Linked DNA regions of Homo sapiens. The protein of the gene in region 2 interacts with the protein of the main gene of each other region in a pairwise test. Each region holds a gene or a part of one and is shown on either strand. Other genes may lie near its edges.

Region 1 (3,060 bases), on a different chromosome or scaffold from region 2:
TGAAGCAATGGCCTTTGCAGTTTACAAAGCTTGCTGTCATGTTCCTGCCCCCTCCCTTCTCCTTCCTCCCACCTCCCTTCTCTCTTCCCTTTCTTCTTCCTCTCCCATTTCTTTTCTCCCTTCACCTAAACATAACATCTCATTCCATCCTTACGTCTGTTTGTTTGTTTTGAGACAGTCTCCCTCTGTAGCCCAGGCTGGAGTGCAGTGGCACAATCTCGGCTCACTGCAACCTCTGCCTCCCAGGTCCTGGTTCAAGCAATTCTCCTGCCTCAGCCTCCCATGTAGCTGGAATTACAGGCACGTGCCACCATGCCCAGCTAATTTTTGTATTTTTAGTTGAGACGGGGTTTCACCATGTTGGCCAGGTTGATCTTGAACTCCTGACCTCGTGATCCACCTGCCTCAGCCTCCCAAAGTACTGGGATTACAGGCATGAGCTGTTGCGCCCGGCAAATTTATTTATTTATTTATTTATTTATTTATTTATTTATTTATTTTTTATTTTATTTTTTTTTGAGATGGAGTCTTGCTCTTTTGCCCAGGCTTGAGTGCAGTGGCACGATCTTGGCTCACTGCAACCTCAGCCTCCCGGGTTCAGGCAGTTCTCCCTGCCTCAGCCTCCCGAGTAGCTGGGATTACAGGTGCCCACCACAACGCCCAGCTAATTTTTTTTTTTTGAGAGAGAGTTTCACTGTTGTTGCCCGTGCTGGAGTGCAATGGCACGATCTTGGCTCACCGCAACCTCCACCTTTCAGGTTCAAATGATTCTGCCTCAGCCTCCAGAGTAGCCGGGATTACAGGCACGTACCACCATGCCTGACTAATTTGTATTTTTAGTAGAGGTGGGAGTTTCTCCATTTTGGTCAGGCTGGTCTCGAACTCCCGACCTCAGGTGATCTGCCCACCTCAGCCTCCTAAAGTGCTGGGATTACAGGCTTGAGCCACCACGCCCAGCATGCCCAGCTAATTTTTGTAATTTTTAGTAGAGACGGGGTTTCGCCATGTTGGCCAGGCCAGTTTTGAACGCCTGACCTAAGGTGATTCAGCCGCCTTGGCCTCCCAAAGTGCTGGGATTACAGGCATGAGCCACCATGCCTGGCCTTCCTTATGTCAACATTATTAAGTGGATATTATTATTCTTTGTATTTGAAGGTGGAAACCTGAGGCTCTGGCCATGGTTGTGTAGCTCGTAAGATTCTATGAGGAGTCTGTAATCATCCTACTCGGTATTCCTGAGTGTGGGAAAGAAGCTAGGCTGGGGTTAGGGGGTTGTAGAATTAGCAGGGTGGCTGATCAAACCATCTAAGGCAAGATGGCGTGGGTGGTTAAAGCATAGCCTTGAGCCAGAGAGATTGGGCTCAACCAAATCCAGCTTTATTACTTACTAACTGTAAGACCTTGGGCAAGTTGCTTAATCTTGCTAAGCCTCAGTGTCCTCACTTATAACAGGGGAGCAGTAATACCCACCTCATGGGATTGTTGTGAGGATCAATGAGGTGTACCTGGTGCAGAGCAGTCGCTCACCACCTGGAAGCTATTGTAATTAGCCTTCCCAGGTCTCTGGGCTGTGGCTGTGCACTTGCATTTCATTCTTCAGCGCCGTGCTTTCCAGAACAGTCCATTCTGGCTGGGCTTTTCTTTTTTAGGATGACCTTAAAGGTGCTGAAAGGATGCCACCAGTAAATGTTTATTGAAAACCTACTATGTGCTCGGCATAGCCCAGGAACTAGTGACCTATGCCTGATGGAAAGGAGATTTGGAGTGGGAGATGTTTGGTGGCTATGGCTTATCCTCACCAGGTGCCATGTGAAGAGGACAGATAATGGAAGTGGGGAGGGAAAGGGCCCTTCATTACCAAGAACTGAGATGAGTTCAGTCCTACTTGGTGGTTGGTAGATGACTGACATGGTCTCTTAGGGTCCCTTCTGAGCCCAGGAAATGGTAGTGGGGGCCCTGGCAAGCATGGATCCCTCCTACTCTGTGGCTGAGGGTTGATGGGGCTTCTGTCCATCTCTTTTCCCAGGTGACAGCGGCATGGACATATGCCCCAGGCTTTCCTGCTGGGGTCCATCCATGAGCCTGCAGGTGCCCTCATGGAGCCCCAGCCCTGCCCTGGAAGCTTGGCTGAGAGCTTCCTGGAGGAGGAGCTTCGGCTCAATGCTGAGCTGAGCCAGCTGCAGTTTTCGGAGCCTGTGGGCATCATCTACAATCCCGTGGAGTATGCATGGGAGCCACATCGCAACTACGTGACTCGCTACTGCCAGGGCCCCAAGGAAGTACTCTTCCTGGGCATGAACCCTGGACCTTTTGGCATGGCCCAGACTGGGGTAAAGGGTTTGGCTTCCCCAGTGGGTGGAGTGGGGGGTTCTAGGTGGATGCTTGGCTGGGTGTGCTGTGGAGAAGGAGCATGTGCATGGCTGTAGACATGTGTAGGTCCTCCCGCCCCATTCTGTCTCAACACATATACTGGCTCCTGTGGTCCGAGGCCCTCTCCCAGCGTCTCTGCCCGTAATTAACCAAGCACATTAATGGTAGTTTCGTTTTCCCTGTGAGCTGGCCAGTAATTGCCTCTGAGAGCCCTTCCTTCCGCCAGCCCCATCCTTACTTTACTGGATCTCCCCTGTCCCTGAAGTGTGGTTGGGGTCAGAAGAGGGACTAGGACTGCTGGGTCCTCAGAAGAGACTGGTTGACAGGGGTGGGTATGTAAGAGATGCAGGGCGTTCTGGGAACCTGGGTTCTGTTTCCTAGCTAAGGCGAGGTTCAAAACAGAGCCTGGCTCCAGTGCCTGCCCGCTTTTCTTTCAGGGCTCAGGATGAGTGACTGCCCCCAGTGGGGGTGCTTGGCAGGTGGGGGAGGGGAAGAGGCTTCAGGGCAGAAGGCTCAATCGCTTTTATTGACCCCAACTGGGTGATGAAAGGTGATCAATGATGATCGATGGAAATGACAGCCTGAGGCTTGGGGCTGAGAGGGCATCCAGACAGCAGTGGTCAGCCCATCCTTGTGCCTCCTTTAACCCTGGCTGCCTTTCTGTCTCAGACCATCTGTCTGTCCCCAGTA
Region 2 (5,058 bases):
GGAATAATATACACAAAGTTCAAGTTAAGGTTTCATCTGGGGAGGAGGCAGAGAGATTGGCAGACACTCTCAGGCAAACCCAGAGTCCTTGGTGACAGCATGATCTTAAATGGATGGTCACACATGGGAGGTGATTTGACTGTTGTGTTTCACAACATACTTTACATAGACTTTGTATGCATCATATATCTTACAATAAATATTAATAAAGAGAAGAATCTCCTGTATTCCTACATCCCACAGAAACAGTGATTAAAAATAAACCCAATCACACACTCTTACCCCCTTGACATCCCCACACTCTCAGCCTCACCCCCATCCTACCCTCAAACACTCAGGGGAGCCTCTAATCACTGCCCTTCCACCTCCCACAGCATCCAAGGGACCGTGAAAAGCCCAGCACTGGGTAAGGGACAGGCACCACCCACCCAACCACGCCCCTTCATCCTCCATGTCTTACTGGTCTCCAGACCCTAAAGTAGACCCAAGAAGGAGCCCAGGTTCAGAAGAGAAACCAAGCCTTCCAGGACGGCAGGCAGAGGGGACCCCACGTGCAGACGTGGCTCAATTCCACAAGCCAACACGTGTCAGCCCCTGAGCAGAAACACCAGAGAAGGAGCCAGGCCCTGGCCAGACAGCGCTATGCAAATACACTTCCCTGCCACATCCCCCAAGACCGGGCAGGAGGAGGGGGATTAGGAGTGGTGATGTCCTGCGGAACACCAGGATGTCTCCCAGGGTCTCAGGGCCGTGGGACCTGCAGGCAGAGCAGGTGCTCCCACAGCCCCTGGGAGGGAGGGGTGGGGTTCCCCTTCATCCCCTCCCTGCCCCACTTAATGCCAGTGGCTTTCCCCAGCACTCACCTCTGCAGCTCCTTCAGGGAGACTGTGACCCGCAGGCCATGGCCCAGGACATAGAGTGCAGTCAGAATGTCCGCCCACTGCACCATCTCCCCTAGGGGCCCGCCCTTCAGGACCCGAGGGCTGAACACGTCCCCGGACTCCTCCGTCAGGAAGCCGATGTGGACCAGGATCTGGGTGGGCGGAACACAGAGGGTCAGCAGAGAGGAGCAGCAGCTCTGAGCCCCGCCCCCCCGGGGCACCGGCCAGGAGACCAGCCGGCAGCAGACCCTGTCTCCAGGCTGGGCCCCAGCAGGTGCTTTCCGGCACCAGAGTGACCAGATCGGGCACTGGGGACACGGGCGAACAAGATAGTCACGTGCTTGCCCTCATGGAGCTAATGTTCCAGATGGAAGAGGTAGACAACAGTGAACACAGACAAGAGATAATTTCATGAAATGATAAGGGCTCTGAAAGAAATAAAAGGGCAATGTGAGAGCCACGTAAATATCTACTGGGTGGAGGGAGGGAGGGAGGGAAGGAAGGAGGGAAGGAAGAATGGAGGCATGAGCTAACGAAGCTCCCCAGAACATTCCCAACTTTCCAGGCCAATACCATGACTTTTCTGCCTGACATGAACCAGATGTACACAGAATGCAGGACCTCTTGGGGGCTTGTCATTTGGTCCCAACCTTGAAAAGGGCCAGGGGCCACCACCACAGACATCTATCCCGACTCTGCCATCCCTACCCCTCTCTCCCTCTGATCAAATTCAGAAGCCCACTACAGCTTGTTTGAAGACCTATTCCATGCCCACTCAGAAGTGGGGGCCCTGAGCTTTCTCAGCTCCTGCACATGAGGGGGCAGGGGCCACGCACCTGCTTCTGGTCCCTCTGGGTGGCCCCCAGCTTCTGTGCCAGGCGCTGGGCAGCCAGCGCCCACTGGGCTGTGAGCCTCTTGGTCCGCTTCTTCATGAAGATCAGGGACTCCTTCCCGCTGCCCATCAGGTCCAGAAGGTGGGACAGGTTGCTTCGGAAAACTGCCTGGAGGGGTCCAGACCTCAGCTCTCTGCCCCTCAACCTGCGGCCACCATCATTCCCCGCTGGCCTGGGGACAGGGGCTGGCACCCTCCCATGAGGCTGGGGCCTGCTCCAGCTTCTCCTGCACTTTCTAAGGGGCTCATTAGCCCCCAAAACCAGGGAGCCCTGCCCGCCCTGTCAACACACCCTCCCCAGCCCAGCTCTAACCATGGGCCCCTAGCCCTTCCACGGAGGTGGCCAACCATAGCAGTTTCCAGGTTCCCAGCCATGACAGGGAGGCAGTGAGGGTGGTGGTCATAGCCAGGACTCCGATGGCAGGGGACAGACGTGGCCACCACAGCAACTATGCGCCTCGAACCCATTAATTCAATTGTAAACCTCAGATGCATCGTCTGTCAAATACGATCATACAAGGATGGCTGGGAACTTTAAGTGCAAATAAAGCATCTGGACACAGAAAACCCTCAATAAGTGACAGCTGCTATTACTACTATTCTAGTCCACTAAGGGGGCATCTCCAGGCCCCCCACCTGCCCTGCAAACAGGCCCAGCTTGGTGGCATCTCAAAGAAGGCAGACAGGCCTTGGCAGGCTGGCCTCCCGTCTGCCCGGTAGGGTGGGCTCGGACCTGCCCACACACCTGGCAAGCAGCTCAGTCTCATTCCCTCAGGACAGAGGTTTCTGTCCACTGTCCTTAAGAATGTCCAGCCACACCAGCCCCTCACCGGCCCACCCACCTCCCAGGCCCACCTGGACTTTGGGGAGGGGCTTGGGTGCCCTCTGGGCAGCCGTCTGGTTCCTCCAGGGCAGCGGGGGGCAGAACCACTCGACCTCACTGAGGTAGATGAGGAAGGAGCACTCGGTGCCGTCCACCCCAAAGAAGGCGTAGCAGGGGTCAGAGGTCCAGCGGGCACGCATCCACTGCAGAGAGGGCCAGGCTGGGCAGGGGGCTGCGCCAGCCCCACTGACCCTCGGGGACTCCCCCGCACGTGCACCCCCAGGGGTCCTGAGGTCAAGGATGGGGCCCATGTGGCCCACCCTACTGATGCAACAGGGGACAGGGCAGAGAAGAGATTGAACCAGGACCCGCCTGAAGGACCCCAGAGATGGCAGGGGCAGGACCACCAGCCCTCATGTCTGGAAAGAGGAGAGACTGGGAGAGAACACTGGCTCAAAGGTCTGGGGCAAAGAGCCAGGAGGCCTGGCTGTCTCCCTCTCCCTCTGGTCCCCGTCTCCCTGCTACCAGAGCAGGATTGGGCTAGAGGCCAAGGTCAGGGAGCAGCCTCCAAGGCGGCCAGGGCTGGAGCCAGGGCGGGATCCACCTGCAGTGATCCCAGATGGTCACCAAGGAAGGGGTCTGCGGCACCACCGCCCACCCCTTAGGGCGTTCAGAACCAGTGGGGAGCTGACTTCACGGCTGTGGACGACTCCTACAAGGGCAGACTTCATGCAGCCAGTGGTGGCCCCAGAAATGGGGCAGGAAGACTCTCCGTCCAGCTGTTGGCTGGGCCAGGAGGAGCAGGGACAGGGCAGCCAGGGCCACTCCTCTGAGTCTCTGGGGGAATCCGGCTGCTGGCGGTGACACTTGGAGATTTAATCATTTGCTGTGAGAAAGCACCGACACCTGAGGGAGACTCTTTCTGGGGGATTTGGATTGATGGGTGGGGTGGATGCACTGAGCAGAGAAGCTGTTTCCCTGAGGTTGGCCTCTGCCAGCTTGTGCCTGGGTGAGGGGCCAGGGCCAGACAGAGAGGCCCTAGCTGTAGACATCCCCACCCCTCAGCCCCAGGCCTCACCTCCACCTTCCCTGAGCAGTCAGGGAACTTGGGGTCACTGGGTGCCTCACACTGGTCCCGCCGGCCTTCTGACACTGTAGGGAGAGGTCACCTTGCTGAAGTCCCTGGTCCAAGGAGGAGCCCAGGGAGGGAGGCCTGCGTGCGGGAGGCAGCTTCCCACACAATCCGCTGCCAGGCTTTCCCACCTTAAAGCTCATCAGCCGCACAACCCACCCACAAGGTCAACCCGGGCCTAGGTTGCCCCCGGCCTCCTCAGGGGGTTCAGATGCAGTGAGGAGCTGGTGCGAACAGCCACTCAGCAGCTGCCTGGATGGGCAGACCTCATGCACCCACCCGAAAGCATCCCCAGCGTTTTCTGAGGAGGCAGAAATGAGGTTTGCAGCCCCCAGCTCGCTGCTCCCCACATCACAGGGACTGGAGGGGCCGCCGAGGGACCCTTCCCCAGGTGGCCTCACTCCTGGAACTGTGGACCCCAGAAGCTGAGACTCCAGGGACCTCCTCTGTCCTCAGCGCCCTCCTGCCGGGTCGAGGGAGTGAACCCCCAGTTGTCCTGCTGAAAGCCTAAACTGGGGCCCCGAAGAGCCAGCAGAGCTGCTGTCAGGAGAAGTCGGCCACACCCCAAGTGTCCCACCCTCCCAGGGCCCACCCAGCACCCAGTTCATTGGCCCCCTAGGGGTAGAGGGTACCCCCGCCCCCTGGCACCCACCCTTGCTGTGCAGGAGCAGACTGTGGCGCAGGATCTGGTCCACCTTCACAGCGATGTCGGAGACGTTCTGGGCAATAGCCTGGATCCGCTCCATGAGGCCGGCCCCAGGGGGCATCCTAAGTGGGAAAAGCCAGAGGTGAGCCACAGAACCGGCCGGGGTGACCTTCCCATGAGGGTCCTGCCAGTAAGGCCCACAGGCAAAGGCGGCAGGCTCTGCAATGCCCCAGGCTCCCAAACCCTGACCCCAAGCAGACCAAATGGTGGGGAGTGAATCGGGTGAGAAGATGGAGCTGGCAGCCCACCCCATCCAGTACACACATTACAGACATACGGGAAAGCCCATATCTGCACATGTTGGTCACAACTGCATGTTGTGCCCACAACTGCATGTGTGATCATATCTGCAGAGAGCCCTTTAGTGGACATCCCCCACCCCTCGGCCCCAGGCCTCATGTCCACCTTCCCTGAGCAGTCAGAGAACATGTCTTCATGTGGCCACAACTGCACGTGTGCCCACAACTGTACAGGTGCCCACATCTGCACATGTCCCCACATATGCACACGTGCCCACAACTGCATGTGCGCCCACAACTGCACACATACCCATAACTGCACATGTAATCATATTTGCATGTGTGGCCACAACTGTACATGTGCCCACATCTGCATGTGTGCCCA

Evidence for each region. The genes of interacting proteins can lie anywhere in the genome.
Region 1: the proteins of MGAT5B (region 2) and SMUG1 interact in a two-hybrid assay, tested with the Homo sapiens proteins (one large-scale study listed by BioGRID).

What each region holds. Positions count from the first base shown.
Region 1 is NC_000012.12:54,182,926-54,185,985, reverse strand, and holds part of SMUG1 (single-strand selective monofunctional uracil DNA glycosylase), read left to right. Parts: intron 1-2,026; 5' UTR 2,027-2,045; coding exon 2,046-2,330; intron 2,331-3,060.
Region 2 is NC_000017.11:76,901,993-76,907,050, reverse strand, and holds part of MGAT5B (alpha-1,6-mannosylglycoprotein 6-beta-N-acetylglucosaminyltransferase B), read right to left. Parts: intron 4,497-5,058; coding exon 4,381-4,496; intron 3,749-4,380; coding exon 3,675-3,748; intron 2,800-3,674; coding exon 2,629-2,799; intron 1,883-2,628; coding exon 1,718-1,882; intron 1,034-1,717; coding exon 864-1,033; intron 1-863. UniProt on the Homo sapiens protein: Glycosyltransferase that acts on alpha-linked mannose of N-glycans and O-mannosyl glycans.